2 separate regions of the Homo sapiens genome follow, and region 2 is linked to region 1. A link means that fine-mapping ties the variant in region 1 to the expression of a gene that starts in the linked region. Tissue or cell type: whole blood. Region 1 holds a variant in brackets; the other region holds the start of a gene. All regions are shown on one strand. Distances are from middle to middle.

Region 1 (8,099 bases):
CGTGGGCTGTGAACTCCACAGCTGTCTGCTTGCCCCCAGACCAAGTGCCCGTCAAGACTGGGCTGGACTTGACTCATCTATGGCCCCATGTGGATGACCTGCACAGCGTGTCACAGGCAGGGGACACTGCGGGGCCCAGAGACACCGGAGAATCTGCAGCCACCACAGGGCAGGGATGTGGGGCAGCCCAGTCCTCCAGCTCCTGCTGATGGTTCCTGGGGACCTGCCCTGCAGCCACCTGAGGCTGGGGCCACTCTGGGGGCTGGAACACCCCAGGGAGAGCTCAGGGGCCCACACTGCTGGGGAGAGGGGAGGGGGCTAACTGCGCCTGCTCTGGAGGCAGGCCCATGGGAACCCCTGAGCTGGGTGGGCCTAAGCCCTGAGGTGGAGGCCAGGACAGGGCACCTGGAGGAGGTTGAGTGCCAGGATGATGCCTTGGGGGAAGAGCGGGCAGATGACCCCTCATGTCACAGAAAGGGCAAGCTGTCCTGCAAGTGACACACAGGCTCCCTGCCTGGCACCTGCAGCACACAAGGTGGGGCAGCTGCCCTACCCAAGCACCTACTGTGTGCGGCATGGTGCTGGGGTCGGCAGCTGTGGCCACCACACCACAGGCCCACACCTGGCCCTGACTCAGGGAGCCAATCTGCCCCAGCCATGGAAGCTACGTGTGCCCACGTTGACCCAGCCTGGTCTCTACAGCCCAGAGCCAGGCTCTGCCCTCGGACAGGCCCCCCACCAGGTTTCGTGCTGCCCCTGCCACAAGGGGCCAGGCCTCCCGGGCTGCCATTACCTCTTGCTTGTCGTGGTGACACTTCTTGCAGCCGGCAGGCGAGGAGTAGTGGTGGAAGATGGAGCCCGACAGGTTGTCGATGATGGTCAGCTCCCCCTCCAAGGAGTCCTTGATGATTAAAGAGACGCTGTCCAGCCACAGGTTCTCCTAGGCGGACGGGGACGGGGTGGGGACAGGCGGGATTATCAGCCGGGTCCCGGGGCTGTGGGGTGGGCAGGACACAGCTGCCCTCCCGGTTGGTTCTCTGCGCCCATGGCCTGGGACCGACCCCCTCATCACAGGGTCACCCCTTCTATGGAGCTGAGCAGGGTGGGGCCCAGAAAGACAGAGGTCTCTGTGCAAGGCCTCCCTGGCCCTGCTGCCCATCTGGCCCTGCGGTGCCCCCCCTCTGGCGACCCTCACACCTCTCCAGCCCCTGCCCACCTGGGCAGGCGAGTAGCAGCGCCGGCACAAGCCGCCCTCGGTGTCGCCCCCGCCGCCCGCCCCTCCCGGCCCTCGGCCAGGGGCGCCCGGGGAGCCGGTAGGCAGCCTCGGGCCAGGGCCCAGGCCATGGGCCATCTCCAGCTCGAGCTCGGCATCCATCTCGGCGTCCTCCTGCGCCTCCTTGTTGCTGTCGTCCAGGTGCTTCATGAGCACAGCCACCACCACGTTGATGAGCACGAACTGCGCGGTGAGCACGAAGCTCACGAAGTACAGCGGCGACACAAACTGCAGGCTGCTCAGGCAGCTGCGCTCGTCGTGGGTGCAGTCCCGCAGCGTGTCCTGCGTGGCAGGGAGGGCGGTGAGGATGAGGACGGAGACATCCCAGAGGCTGCTGGAGGCAGAGGCCAGCCCAGGGCCACGCTCGGAGGCAGCAAGACCGAGATTCAACCCCCGAGATGGCCCCGGGCTGCCCTGCCCCACTCTGCCTTGTTGCGGCATCTGCCTGCCTCAGCTTCAGCTAAGTCCCCGCATGGACAGACGGATGGCCCAGCGCCCTCTCCTCCTCTCTTGCTCCTGCCCATGTCACCCTCCCCACAGCTGGCCTGCTTCCCCGGGACAGTCAGGCCTGAGAAGGGGCATCTGGGGCTTCCTTCAGGGGCCCCTGGGGAGTAGGGTGCATTCGTGACCAGGGCCTCCCTGTCCTTCCTTTCTGGTTTTTCAGCTCAACCCCCAACCACAAAGCCCAAGAAGACTCCATCACCTTCCCGCCCTGGGCTGAGGAGATTGGCCGCCTCTCCCAGCACCCTGGCTTCCTGCCCCCTTGCTGGGGGCACTGGGGGCTCTGCAGGGTGGGGGTGGGAGGCAGAACAGGCCTACCTCTGCCCTCTCCACCCTAGGGCCCCGGAACCGAGGCCTTACCCCTGTCCTCTGGGAGCCCCTCCCTGCCCTTCCCAGCCCAGCCCGGGTTGCAGCCCAGGCCAGGGAGCCTCTGCCGGGTGACCTGGTCAGCGTGGAAATCACTAGGGGGCCTGGCCCTGGCCTTCAGGCCTGCCTGGGCCCCAGGTCCCCTCCGGAACTGGGTGGAGTTGTCTACCCTAGAATCTGAGCCCTGATCCCAGGCAACACTGGGGGATGAGGCAGTGTAGACAGGGGGCCTGTTCTGGCTCAGCTCTCCCCACTGTGCTGGTCCTGGGCAGGCCCCTCCACTCCTCCGTGCCCTGCATGCCCCTCCCATGTGTGGTGGGGCCCTGGGTGGGCAGAGCCCTGAGCAGCAGGACCAGCATCCTCACTGTCCCAGCACCTGGCTGATTTCTCCACCCCAGCCCGCCCAGGAGTACCTTCATGATCCCGTTCCAGTTGTCACCCGTGGAGACCTGGAAGAGTGTGAGGAAGGCCATGCCGAAGTTCTCGAAGGTGGCATGCCGGCTCATGCCCTCGCACGGGTTCTCGTCGTTGCAGACTGGAAGCGGGGAGGAGGTCAGCCCTGCCCGATGGCGGAGTGCCTGCGGGGCTCACCCTGACCTGGTGCCTCCCGCCTCGCCTCAGAACCCTCATCACACCCTAGGAGGGGCCTGCAGACTGTGCCCAGCCCACAGATAAACTGAGGCTCGGGGAGATGGCACATGAGCTGGGGCTCAGGTTTGGGTGAGTCTGGCTCTGCTCCCCGCCGAAGAATGGGTTTCTGAGAAAGAGGGTGAAATGGGGTGAGGGCCAGCCCCTCGGGGAACCCTGCTTTCTGGAGCCATCCCGGTGCAGGGCGGAGCTCAGCGAGCGCTCTGTTGCTCTTTCCCCTGCCCTGGCCTCTCCACTTGCTGGGGTGGCGCTGGCTCAGGACAGGCACCAACACCGGGGTAGGGAGGGCAGTTTTCCTGGGAGACCAGACAGCTGAGGGCCCTGCTGTAGGCATCTCCCCAATACAAAGACCCTGATGTGACGGGCTCAGGGGTCTCAGGCCTCCCCCGCCCCCCCAGTTCCTCCTGCAGCCCTGCTGCACCCCCACCACGGGCCTGCTCTGGGAGTCACTCACCCAGCTTCCCAAAGAGCTCCACCCCGAGAGCAGCATAGATGAAGAAGAGCAGCATGAAGAGGAGGCCCAGGTTGCCCACCTGCGGGAGGACAGGTGAGGCCGGGTGGGGCTGGGGAGCGGGTGGGGGCGCACCAGGCCTGGGAAGGGTGGAGGCTGGGGCAGTGGGGTTGGGCAGCCTGTGGGTCAGAGCAGCTGTAACATTCCCCCAGGCTGTGTGTCCACGTCTGCCACCCCTACAGGACCTGGAGGGCAGGCTGGGTCCAGCACAGGGCTCAGAATAACAAGAAAACACTTGTGCCACCTTTACCACAAGCTGTCCCATTTCCAGCACTTAAGGTTCATGAGCTCACTTCCTCCTCACAATAATCCACGAACTATCTTTTATCCCCATTCTTCAGAAGAAGAAGGAGACAGACTGAGAGGTGACATCACTTGTCCAGAGTCGCACAGCTAGTAACTGGTAGGACAAGGGTCCAAACCCAGCAGGCTGGCCCCAGGGTCCATGCACACAATCTATGCTACACGCCTTGAGTGGCTACCAAGGTTGAATGGATGGATGAACGAAGGGAAGGGAGAAGGCAGGAGGTCTCAGCTCTAACACTAGCTCCTCTACGAAACCACCGAAATGCACTTATCCCTGTCACTGTCATCTGCTGGTCTGGGAAATCTTCAAGAGCAGGAACACAGCTGCATGAGGTCAGATTTGCCTCCTTGGGCCAGCATGAGGCCTGGCCATAGAGAGGAGGGAAGGCAGGAATCACGCAGGCCCGTGGGCCCCAGAAGCCTCTGCAAACCCAGCCACCCCCATCCCACAGCTCCTGTGGGAGAAAGCGTCCCAGATTCCAAACCTAGTTCAAATCTATCCATGCATTGGAGACCACCTTTAACTCATGCTATGG[A/G]TAAGATAAGGCTAAAACACATTCTTGCCCTAGAAATGAAATATCTCTTAGAACCCTCAGAAGGCCTTAGAACCCTCAGAAAACGTTCACGTTAACTGCTGAAAAGTAAACCCCATTAATCACCACTCCTCGAGTTTCTCCGCTCCACTCCAGAGCAGGGTTTCCTGGCCAGCCGTTCTACACTGCTAGTGTCTGACTAATTAAATGATGTTCCCTTCATTAATAAAACAAGCACTTACTGAGCACCCGTGAGGCCAACTGTAAGGCCCTGACCGCTGAGAAGGATCTGGCGTGGTCGCGGCTCTAGGAATTCAGCTTTGTGCCCTGCACAGGCCGGCGGGGGCAGCATCTCTTAACCAGGATTGCCGTCAGCTTTTCTATCTGTCCCCTCCCTGCTGTCAGCATCTCAGAGCCGGCAGGGTTGCAGCAGCCTCCTCACCAGCTTCCCTGCCTCCAGCCTCTCCCTCCAATCCATTCTCCTCCCAGCCAGCAGAGCCACCTTCTCAAAGGCAGCTCGGCTGCAGCCTTCCTTGTCTAGAACCCTCCTGTGGCACCTGCTGCCTGCAAGATAAAGCCCAATTCTGCTGCCCTAGCACTGAAGGTGTGCTGTGACCTGGCCCCCAGGGACCCCCCTCCCAGCCTGATCTTCCAATCCCACACACTCCAGCCACACAGAAAACAGCCCCACAGTGCCTTGGCATATTATTTTCCCTCTGCAGGGAGGACCCTCTATCTTTGCCTGTAAAATGCCTCCTCCCCACCCCTCAAAGCCCAGTCCATGGGTCACCTCCCCTGAGAAGCCTTCTCTGATGCCTCCTCCCTCTTCTTGGGGCAGAGACTGGTGGGAAGAGGCTGAAGTTTCATTTTCCTAGCACTTTACGTAGAATCGAGGAAATGGCCAATGTCCATACAACAACATGAGCAACAGCAAATGGATTTTGAGGGGTAAGCACCATTTCACGGCCAGTGGCACTTGGCACGTGCTTCTTCTCAAGTGCTAATGCACTTGTAATGACTACCTTGGGTCTCCTGCTGGAGGCTGGGATGTCCTGAACATCTCCATGTGCCGTGCCCCATGCCAGCTCCACACTGGATTTGGGAGTCATGATAGAACCGCCCAGGGGTCAGAGCATGGGGAAGGGGAGAGGGAGCAAGGAGGCCAGGGAGGCCGAGCCACACACTCACCATCCCCACCCCTAGCAGCCTCTTAAATGGCACTTCTCATGAACCAGACCTCTTAAGTGCTTCATAAGCTTTAACCATCTGACACCTCACCGCCGCCCTTTGAAATAAGCGCTTGAGGGAGCGATGCTTCACCACCATCCTCATTTCACAGGCAAGGAAACTGAGGCACGAAAAGCTAAGTCGCATGCCCAGGGCCCAGGCTTTGCTCTCAAGCATTATGGCCCAAGCCGGGGCTCCAATCTACTTCCTGTCGGCACAGCCTGCAGCCCAGCATCACCCCCATCTCCCATGGGACAAAGTCCCCTGAAGGGGTTTAGTGTTAGGAAAAACCACGTCTCTGAATGAATGCCCTTGCTTTCCATCCAGACCATGCCACTTTCCCTTTATACCAAGGCTGCTGGGAAGCTCACACCAAATTCAGGAACAGAACTCACCCATGTCCTTAGCCCCGGTCCCCGAAAGAATTAGCTCTGCTTCCACCTTCCCTGGGCCATTAATCTTGTATCCTCATTTTTAATGTGCAGTATCTGTGCCTTGTATTTTAAGGCACCTAAACTTCCTGATGACTCGTTGAGTCATAATGAATAAATGTGCCTGAGGCTCAGCTGAGAGCAGAGGCCACCCTGAGGGGAGGGGGAAGGGGAGCCTCAAGCAGTCAAGACAGCGGGGGAGGGAAGGACTGGGATTGCAGAATTCTCGGGAGGATGAAAAAGATGCCCTCTGTGGCCCTGATCACATCTCCCCTTTCACTAACCGCAGGGTGCGGGTAGAGCAACTTCCCTAACTTCTCAGATCCCCACCTGGGTCAGGGTCTCATGCTGCCCCTCCTGGAATGCCATCTCGGAACTTCTCCATCCACACTGCCACCTCCTTCTGCCAAGCCACCCTTGGAAGTCAAGCTCAAAGGTCCCCTTTCCTAGGCTGCCTTCCCTGATCTCCCCAGGGAGTGTCTGGCACTCTTCTCTCTCTCTGGAGCATGCTGGAGGTCCCTCCCCACATCTCCCTGAAGTATCCATCTCCCTCCACCAGCCTGGGGGCAACCAAGGGCACAATGTGGACCCTCAGTGCGTGCACAGGGCTGGACACAGAGTGGCACTGGCAACCACATGGTGAAACTGGAAGAAAGAGGCATAAAGGGACCCTTCCTGCCTCTCAGCCCCTGGCTCAAAATGCATCCCCAGAGACAGCATCTGCCCTGGCTCTGGCAGATGTGAGGAGAAGGGAAATCAGGGCCTTCATGCCCCAGGGCCCAGCCTGACACCAATGACCCCTAGGAGGGCTGCCAGAAAGAGTGGCTCTTACCTGGGGCAAAGCTTGCACCACCGTGTCCAGCAGGGCCCGCATTCCTGTGGCCATCTTCAACAGCTTCAGCACTGCGGGCGAGACCCAGCCCTGCCCACTCAGCCCCAGGCCGGTGGGGACGTGTGTGTGCACGCATGTGTGCACGTGTGTAAACTTGGGAGAAGAGAACATGAAGGCACGTGCAAGCAGAGTCTGGCTCTCAGATACCACATTACAAGAATGTGGGTGCAGCCACAGGGTGAGTGGGGCATGCACAAAAACATGTGGACACAAGGCGTGGGTGTCACTGTAGAAAAGCCCCCGAGGACGGGGCATACTCATGGAAACTGAGGTCTATGAAGTGTGTGAATGGGTGGGCCATGAACTGTCACGGGCACAAAGGACCAGCGTGAGTGGCCACATCTCTTCTCTTCCCCTCTCGATAAAGAGGACTCTGGCATCACTCGCTGAGTTTCTGGCAGGCAGAAGAGCAAGAGGCACCTGGGCTCGCCCTGAGGCAGGAGGCTTTTAAAAGAAGTGTACGAACTACCTTGAGGGGAGGGAGAAGGATCTCTGAAGACCGTGCGTCCCAGTCACTGTGTTTGAGAAATGCCAGCGAGGAACTGGAGGTGTTTCACATCTTCCCAGTTGGACTGGGTTCCTTGCATCACACTCTGAGACTGGACCCCATGGGTCATGGCGTCATAAGGAAGTGGGAGTGTGTGTCCATGTGTGCTATGCAAAGTTGCCTGTGTGTTGGGGGAGGTGTGTGCACACAGAGGGTGCATGCGTGTGTGTTGGCTGTGTGCCTCCCAGCTCCTTCTCACCCCTGTTCAGCAAGGAGCCCACCATGCCTGCAAACTCCTGCCCCCACCCCTCCCCACCCCACTCCTGTGTGTTCTCATCAGGCAATGAGGAGTCTCATCCCGCCCCTGCTTGTCCCCGTTCCCTGTCCCACCCCTTGCCCCTCACCTCGGGCAATGCGCAGAACCCTCATGATGCGGATGATGGTGGGATTGATGGGCAGGGCCGCATTGATCTCGATCTCCTCCAGGGTGATGCCCATGACTGACAGTAGCACAATGGCCAGGTCCAGCTGGTTCCATCTGCTCAGCCGTGCATGGGAGGGCAGGAGTGGGCATGAGGAGGATCCCTCTGGTTCAGACACACCTTAGTGGGGGGAGCCTCCCAGGTCCTGACCCTTCTATTGTGGCCCATTAGGCTGTGTGGCTGCCCTCCCTTACTAGCCCCTCCTAACGCCACTGGGTCCAGGCCCCTCTCTGCTCCCCATAGCCATCACTCCGTCAAGCAAGGGGCTGATCAGGCTAAATAAATATCTCTGGCCTCCTGCAGGAGAGGAGGCATGGACTATGACTTCCAAGTCTAATCTTGAGCTGGCTGCTCTCTCTGTCTGGCCTTAGGCTAGTCCATCAACTTCTTTGAGCCTCACTATTCCCTTCAAAAAGGAGTATTAGCATGAGGCAGACCCTGC
Region 2 (8,087 bases), 110 kb after region 1:
CAGCCAGGAAAGAATCCTAGAGGCTTCAGCCCCTGCCCCACCCACACACGCACCCCATCCCAAGCCCCTAAAGCCCACCCTGAGCTCCCCACGACTGAGTCTCTGCTCCAGGGGACAGCCCTATGGACAGCCACGTCTCCTGGGTCTCTGTTTGTGGAACCCTCCTTGGCCCCTCTCCCACCTGACCCAATTCAGCTATGAACTCTCAGGCCAGCAGCGGCTGCAGCCACCGGGTCCAGAATCCTCCAACTCGTAGGCACACAGCATCACAGCCACCAAGTCTTAGGCTCACACACTCTTTGAAACACAGAATTTTGCAGCCTTTGAATGACAGAAGCTTAGAATTTCAGTGTCGCTGAGCCTTAAATCTTAACTTTGAACCCTTAGACTGTCGCAGAAGTTTTCAGTCTGAGTGTCCCAGAGCTGACACCTTTAAAGTTGCTGTGCTTTTGAGTCGCCACATCTCTGGCCTGAAGAGAGTCCGTATCCCACCAGTTAAGGCCGAGACCTGAACCACCTCTATCCCAGTCCAGCCTCAGCAGCCCTGGCCATGGGGATGCCGGGGGAACCCTCGCTCTGCGCAGCTCCCGGGACTGAAAAGTCCCTCCTGATGGAGGGGGGCTGCTTTCTGCCCCACCCCTTGGACCCAGGGCTCTCTCCAAGACAGACAAGAGGCAGGCCCAGCTCCTCCCGAAACCAGTACTCCTCTCCCTCCTGGGCCAGCCCCACTGTTGTCTCCAACCCCAGGCCACAACCCACATGACCTGAGGATGGAGGTGAGAGGGGTGGTGAAAACCAAGGAGACAGTGGCCCCAAGGACTCTGTTTGCCCAACAGGCCAGAAATATGGAAAACTGGGTGGGTTCCCAGGGGCTGGCTCACTCAGTGGTCAGGCGTCAGGGTGCCTGAGATCAAGGCAGCCCCCATGGCGTGTGTGGCTAACACCCTGGGCTCCCAGGGCTGGAAGGGGTGATTCGTCTGCCGTCTCCTTTTTAGGTGGAGGTGCTGAGGCTCAGAGAGAGGAGACTGCCCAGGGTCACACACATGGCAGACAGGACTTGACCACCCCCATCTAGGGGCCTCTCCGTGACACGTGGGCAGCACCCCAGCCAGCCCAGCCAGAGCCCATCAGAGACGCAGCTGGGTCAGACTCCCAGGCCAAGTCCTCTGAGCCATGCCCCTGCCTCCAGCCCAGAGCAGTATTGCCCATCCAGACCCCCTAAGGTTCAAAGAAGCAAAGTGACTTACTCATGGTCACACAGCACCCAAGTGACAGAGCCAGAATCAACTCTTGTCATCTCACCCAGGAAAGGCCCCTGAGACATTGTGAAATTGTCCCCCTGGTCCTCCTACCAGCCTTTCTCTTCCTAAAGGCCCAAAATTCCTGCGGCCGCCCCCTTCTCAGGCCTGGCACTCCTCTGTTCACATGCCACAAGCCCCTGAGGTTTCCCCAGTGCTTTGTATTAAAACTAGCCACGTAGGCTGGGCACAGTGGCTCACACCTGTAATCCCAGCACTTTGGGAGGCCGAGGCAGGCGGTTCACGAGTCAGGAGTTCGAGACCAGCCTGACCAACATGGTGAAACCCCATCTCTACTAAAAATACAAAAATTAGTAGGGCATGGCGGTGGGTGCCTGTAGTCCCAGCTACTCGGGAGGCTGAGGCAGGAGAATTGCTTGAACCTGGGAGGCGGAGGTTGCAGTGAGCCGAGATCGCGCCACTGCACTCCAGCCTGGGTGACAGAGCGAGACTCCATCTAAAAAAAAAAACTAGCCAAATGGGTGGTCCCTGCTTCCCTCTTCCCCGGGCACTCCCTGGGACAGACACCAGCTCTGCCTCTTTGTCCTCAGTGTCCCAGGGCAGATGTCAGTGAGTGCTGGGTGAACTAATTACCGAGCAGACCCTCTCACCAAGCCTGAGACGCTGTGAGCCGTCCCCCAGAAGGAGCAGGGAGGCTCTTAGCCCCCACCCAGCAAGGAACACCCAGTTCTGCATCCCACTCCAGCAGAGACCCGCTGGTTTCCAAAAGTTAGGGGGATCCAGGGCCCACGATCACCTCAGCCCCCTACAGAAGGGAAGCCTGGCAGTCCTGCAGCCAGTCTCAACATCCCAGCCTGCATCTGGCATCCCTGGATTCCAGGGCAGGACTCAGGCCTGCACCTGACCCACCAGCTCCCCGCACCCTGCCCTGTGTGGCCACAAGCACCAGAACCTCGAGCCACATATGGGCATTTTTTGGTGGGACCCTCAAACCACAAGGCCACCATGGCTTGGGTCCCCAAGCCTCCTCCTCAGTGGTCCCCAGCCCCCACTTCACCCTGCAAGCCAGTGCCACACAGTCCTTCCAGAGCACAGATCTCTCCAGACCCTGCTTCAAATCCTGCCCTTGGAGCACAGTCCCATCCCTCATGCAGCCTCCAAGGCCCTGCAGGGCTCCCGCCACACCTGCAGCCTCACCTCACTCCTCTCTGCCCCTCAGGGCTCCAACACTGCCTGCAACTCCTCCCTTCTCCAGGCTTCGCTCCTGCCATGCCCTCCTCCTGCCTCCCACTACCCTCTCTACCCAACCAACGCTCTTCCTTATTGAGGAGTCAGCTCTGGCATTGCCCATGTACACCCAGCAAACACTGCCAGAGCACCCACGATGTGCCAAGCACTGTGCCAGGTGCTAGGGTCCCCATCCCAGTCATCTGACAGTACCCCAGGGGAGGCAAATGTTAGATTCAGAATTCCACAGTTAGATGTGACAGTTAGATATGAAGCAGAGGAGGAATCCCAGAGGGCTTCCCTGAGGAGGTGATGCTTAAGCTGGGATTTTAAGGATGTAGCAAAGGATTTGGCCAGGTCCAGGGGGAAGGGAAAAGCTTTTCAGACAGGGGGAAGAGCCAGTGAGAGGACCCTGAGGCTCAGAAGAGCACAGGGGGGAAGCCAAGTGGTGGGAAGTGAGGCTGGGTGGAACACACAGGCCCTGATGGGTTGGATTAGGACTTTGCTCTGCACCTCCAGGACCATAGCAAATCATGACAGTCTTAAGCAGGGGGAACATGAGCCCACTGGAGGCAGCAAGTGGAGGCAGGAGGCCTGGGAAGAGGCTGCTCGGAGGCACAGTAAGGAGAATGAGTCCTGCCCTGTGTGTTGGGATCGGCTGCCCCGCTGCCCACGCCCACAGTTCCTGATCACGGCTCCCATCCTCTGTATGGTCACGGCCCATCAGGTGGCTCCAGAGTCTGACTGATCTGCATTCCCAGCCCAGCACAGGTCTGGGGCCCACACTCAAGGACTTTCTGAGCCAGCCAGCCACTGGACTGACCCCACAGCCACCAGCAACTTCCAGAACCTTCACATCAGCAGAACACCAGGTCCTCATCCATTTGAGGTCTCCCCAGACCCACCCTCTGAGCTCGCTCACCACCACCAAGGCCCAGTGGCCTCACCGCAGACCTCAGGTCTCCCAGCCGGAGCAAGGTGTGAGCAGCAGGACTCAATCCAGCCCCCCACCCTTCAGCCCCTGCAGGGCCCCGATCAGCCGAGGCTGCGGAGGATATGGGTTGCACACCATCTTGATGCACCAGTTCCGGGGGCTGGTGGTCTGTCGCAGGCAGAAGAAGGCAATAGGCGCCAGGTCTGGGTGTGGGACATGAGGATCAGCTCCATCCAGAGGCTCCTCCAGGCCTGGCGGGGAGGATGGGGGGCTCCGGGGTCCGGGCTGCTCCGTGGTGACTCCTGGCTCAGCGGCTGGGGCTGCTGCAGATGAGGAGGGCGGGGAGGCGCTCTCAGCCATGTCCACACTGAGCTGGGAGCCCTGGGGAAGACAGAGAGGGTGGCACGTGGTGGGGACAGGCCTGGTACATGCTCCCCAACCTGCCTCTCCACCAATAAGTGGACGGATGCAGCTCTGACAGCCCCACCTGAGCCCCACAGGCCCCTCACCCTCACTCTTGCATGAGGATTACGAAACAGCTGAGGGCCCAGCTGCACCCAACTTGGAATCTGCTTCCAAGCTGGGTGATCATGGGGCAAGTCTGCTCACCCTGGCTGAGCCTCAGTTTTGGCAAACGAAGATAGTGGGGAGAATAAAGCCTTCTTAGAATATAATTGTGATATTAACTCTTTTTTTTTTGTCTATTGGCAATTTTCTGTATTTGAAATCTTTCATTATTTAAGAGAAAAAATGTTTAAGTAATTATAGACAGAAAAGAAAGACGGAAGGGAGGGAGAGAGGGAGAGAGGGAGGGAGGGAGGGAAGAAAGGAAGGAAGGAAGGAAGGAAGGAAGGAAGGAAGGAAGGGATCTTAACTTTTTTACAAGACTAGAGCTATGTATTTATTGCACCATCAAAGGTAAAGAAAACTTGCAAGAAAAAAGAGGTGATTGTAAAGACAGACATTATTGCCAGGACAATGCAGGTTACAAAGGCAATGTTGGGGTGCTGCAGAATCAGAGACTGGGGGAACGCTGGCAAGCCAGGAGGGAATCACAGTTGGCTTCCCTGAGGAAGTAACCCCTGAGCTGAGACCTACAGCTGAGCCCTTGACCCAGGGACCTCCCAGCCACTGCCTTACAAGGCTGAGAACCCAGGAATCTTAGAGTCTAACCTCCTTGCCTTACAGATGAAGAAACCGAGGCCCAGAGAAGGGACAGGACAGACATGTAGCAGAGTAACAGCAGAAATAGAATTCCAGTCAAAGGCCAGGCACGTGACTCACACCTGTAATCCCAGCACTTTGGGAGGCCAAGGTGGGTGGATCACCTGAGGTCAGGAGTTTGAGGCCAACCTGGCCAACATAGTGAGACCTCATCTGTACTAAAAATACAAAAATTAGCTGGGTGTGGTGGCACACGCTGTAATCTCAGCTACTCGGGAAGCTGAGGCATGAGAATCACTTGAACCCGGGAGGTGGAGGTTGCAGTGAGCCAAGATCACACCACTGCATTCCAGCCTGGGCAACAGAGCAAGACTCTGTCACCAAAAAAAAAAAAAAAAAAGAATTCCGGTCAGAGCCCGCTTCCTGGGTCTGTGGCTCAGGCAGCTGCACAGGGCCCCGTGCTCAGAAGGGCCCTGAACTTGCTTTAGAATTCTTCTGTCACCAACATGAAATTCTTAATTGCTTATCAAGAGGTCCCACATTTTCATTTTGTTCTAGGTGATGCAAATCATCTTGCTGGCTCCGACTCCAACTCAAAGCACTTCTACTCCCTGGCCTTGTCTGATGCTCACAACAACCTCAGGAGGACTATTATGCCCATTTGGCAGGTGAAGAAACTGAGGCCAAGAGAACAAAGCGGGTTGTCAAGGCTATGCACCCAGCCAAGTGAAGCACTAGGTGGTGTTGAGAGGCCAGAATCCCAGCACCAGACCCCCAGGCGGGCTTCATGACAACTGATGGTGCCCTCGCTGGCCGAGAGCCTCCGCAACCAGTCAATGGCAAGATGGGACGGACAGCCACTCCCAGGGCCTGCCCCTCACCACCTCACCCCAAAGGGTACTAGTCCCTAAAACTTTGTCCACTGGGGTCCCTGGGATCCTAGAACCCCTACAGGGCCAGTCTGAGCCGTGGGATTGAGAGATGGGGTCCACGTCCCTGGTGCCCACCCAGCTGCTGCTGGGCTGTCGACCAAGCCACCCGGAGCTGATGCATTTGGACATTTCTCTGGCTCCCGGGGGCAACGGGCAGGGGTTGGCACCTCCTGCCACTTCCCCTGGCTGGTCAGGGAGGCGGAGTTTTCTCCTGAGCTCAGGGCTTTGCTCTTGATTCCAGAAAAACAGCCACGGGCCTTACATAAGCTCCCAGGCACCTTGGCCTGCCACGTGTCAACCTCCTGGGCTGAAACGCACCCTCCCTAGGGTGGTTCCAGCTCTGCCCACCACCGTGCCAGCCTCGGAGCCCACCACTCCCTCCCCTGGCCATTTGCTCTGGCCAGATTGGACCTCCTCAGGTCCTAGGCCCTGCTCCCGCTCTTCCCTCTCACTGGGGCACCTTCTCCTTCCGCCCAGGCCCTGTTCTCCCAGGCCCTACTGATTCATTCATTTGCCCAATGAGCACCTACTATGTGTGGGCACTGTGTGGGCTTCGGGCTATGCTGGGGCACGAGCCAGACTCAGCACCAGCCCCCATTCAGCCCACACTTCCGCAGAGGAGAGAGACACACCGATCAATTAATTTCTCTCTTTCTGCTTTTCCACAACTCTTATCACCATCAAACACGGTGCATAATTTATGTCTTTATATCTCCATGATTTGGTGTCTGTCTCCCCAGCCTAAGAGAAGCCTGTAAGGGAGGTGTATCCCCTCACTGCTGTATCCCCAGCACCTGGAATGGTGCCTGGAGCATACTAGGTGCTCAATCGATATTTGTTGACTCAGTGAATAAAAAGTGCTGGGAAGTAAATAAACAAGGGGAAAGGTGGGAGTGGAGACAATCATCTTGCCCTCTCTAAAGGAAGAGATGTTTAAGTGAAAACCAAGACGCGGGAGGCCGCAGCCCTGACTGATCTGCTGGAAGAGCACAGGAGGAAGAGCACGTGCGAAGGCCAGGAGAATGGGGCCCGCTCGGTGCATTTAAGGAACACAAGCGAGGCCGAGCCTCGGGCAGGGAGGCGGATGAAACCAAAGAGTTCAGCAGGGCCCTGGGGGAGAACACAGAGGAGCGTGGGTTTTATCCCAAGTTCAGTAGAAGCCACAGGTGGGTTTTAGGCAGGGGAGTGGTGTGCTCTGGTCTGTTTCTAAGCCATCTCTCCAGGGGCTGAAGGGAGAGTGGATGAAGGGGAAGGGGTGGAGCAGGAAGGGCTGGGAGGAGCTGGGCTGGCCTGCCCTTGGCTGCTGGTGAAGACAGGGAGAAGGCGGTGGATTGAGATTTATTCTCGAGGTAAAGCACCTGGTCTCGCAGCAACTGCAGTGGCCCACCTGCAACCCTCGCCCCAGCATTACCGAAGTCCTTCCTGAAACCACACAGGTGGAAAGAGCTCCCCCGGCCTCCGGGACTGCACAAAACTACCCACTTCCTGCCTCTGGGCTACGTCGCTTGCACTGACTTGCTTGTTGCCTCTCTTGGCTTGTTTAATGCCGCCACACTGTGCTGCCCTCTGTGCTCACACCTCTCCCCTCACTGTGGTGCTCCCAGAAACCACACCCCTAAGGCCACCACCCTCAACTCTCTCCCCAGTGTCCACCCAGCCTCCACCCTCTGACCTGCTCCCAGCGGCCACCCAGCCTCCACCCTCTGACCTGTTCCAGTGACCACCCAGCCTCCACCCTCGGACATGCTTCCAGTGACCACCCAGCCTCCACCCTCTGACCTGTTCCCAGTGACCACCCAGACCATCTCCCTCTGACCTGTTCCTTAGCAGCTTCCCAGGCCACTACTCCCTGACCCACTCCCCACTCCCAAAGCCCCCAAGTCCAGTCCAGATATCTCTCTTTCCTGTGTCTGTGGCCTAGCTCCTATCGCAGGTGCCTGTGTGCCCATGGCTGGAAGCCCTGAGGGGACTGGCAGCTGGGCCTCCCTGGGCTCCAATCTGTCCGCAGTCACAGAGACTAAAGGACTTGCTTTAGGTGACAGCATTGGTGGATTCAAACTCAGGTCCATCAGGTGCCAGAGTCTGAGCTGCCTCCACATCCCTGAGTCCCCTTCTTCTAGGTGCTCCCAGGACCTAACCCTGATGCTCCTTCCCCTGAGTAGCCCACCAAGCAGCAGTGTGGCAATTAGGCTGGCCTCCAAGAGCAGGGATAGGAGCAGAAGCCTGCTGTGTCTGGAACACAGACCCCCATTCCTGACTCCGTCAGCTTCTTAGAGCCTCAGTTTTTCTCTGTAAAGCTCAGCCCTCCTCCAGCCTGCTTCAGCAGGCTCTTGTTAAGAAGCAACATGATGGGCTGCCAGGTGTGGTATCTCACGCCTGTAATCCCAGCATTTTGGGAGGCCGATGCGAGTAGATCATCTGAGGTCAGGAGTTGGAGACCAGCCTGGCCAACATGGTGAAACCCCATCTCTACTAAAAACACAAAAATAAGCCAGGCATGATGGCGCACACCTGTAGTCACAGCTACTCAGGAGGCTGAGACAGAAGAATCCCTTGAACCCAGGAGGCAGA

What was found. PIP is the estimated chance that this variant, and not a neighbour inherited with it, causes the effect.
Region 2: CACNA1I starts here. The variant in region 1 is fine-mapped to the expression of CACNA1I in whole blood (TOPMed, PIP 0.96).

The regions. Positions count from the first base shown.
Region 1 is chr22:39,672,563-39,680,661 of GRCh38, reverse strand. CACNA1I (calcium voltage-gated channel subunit alpha1 I) reads right to left here. Exons shown (of 37, transcript NM_021096.4): 28 at 7,580-7,713; 29 at 6,629-6,699; 30 at 3,243-3,321; 31 at 2,554-2,675; 32 at 1,217-1,555; 33 at 794-940. Among named protein-coding and RNA genes, the nearest start is that of CACNA1I, 110 kb to the right of the region's middle. The variant A/G (reference allele first, on the strand shown) is at 4,142.
Region 2 is chr22:39,566,446-39,574,532 of GRCh38, reverse strand. It overlaps CACNA1I (calcium voltage-gated channel subunit alpha1 I), which reads right to left and starts at 3,780. Exons shown (of 37, transcript NM_021096.4): 1 at 3,545-3,780. The coding sequence starts at 3,780.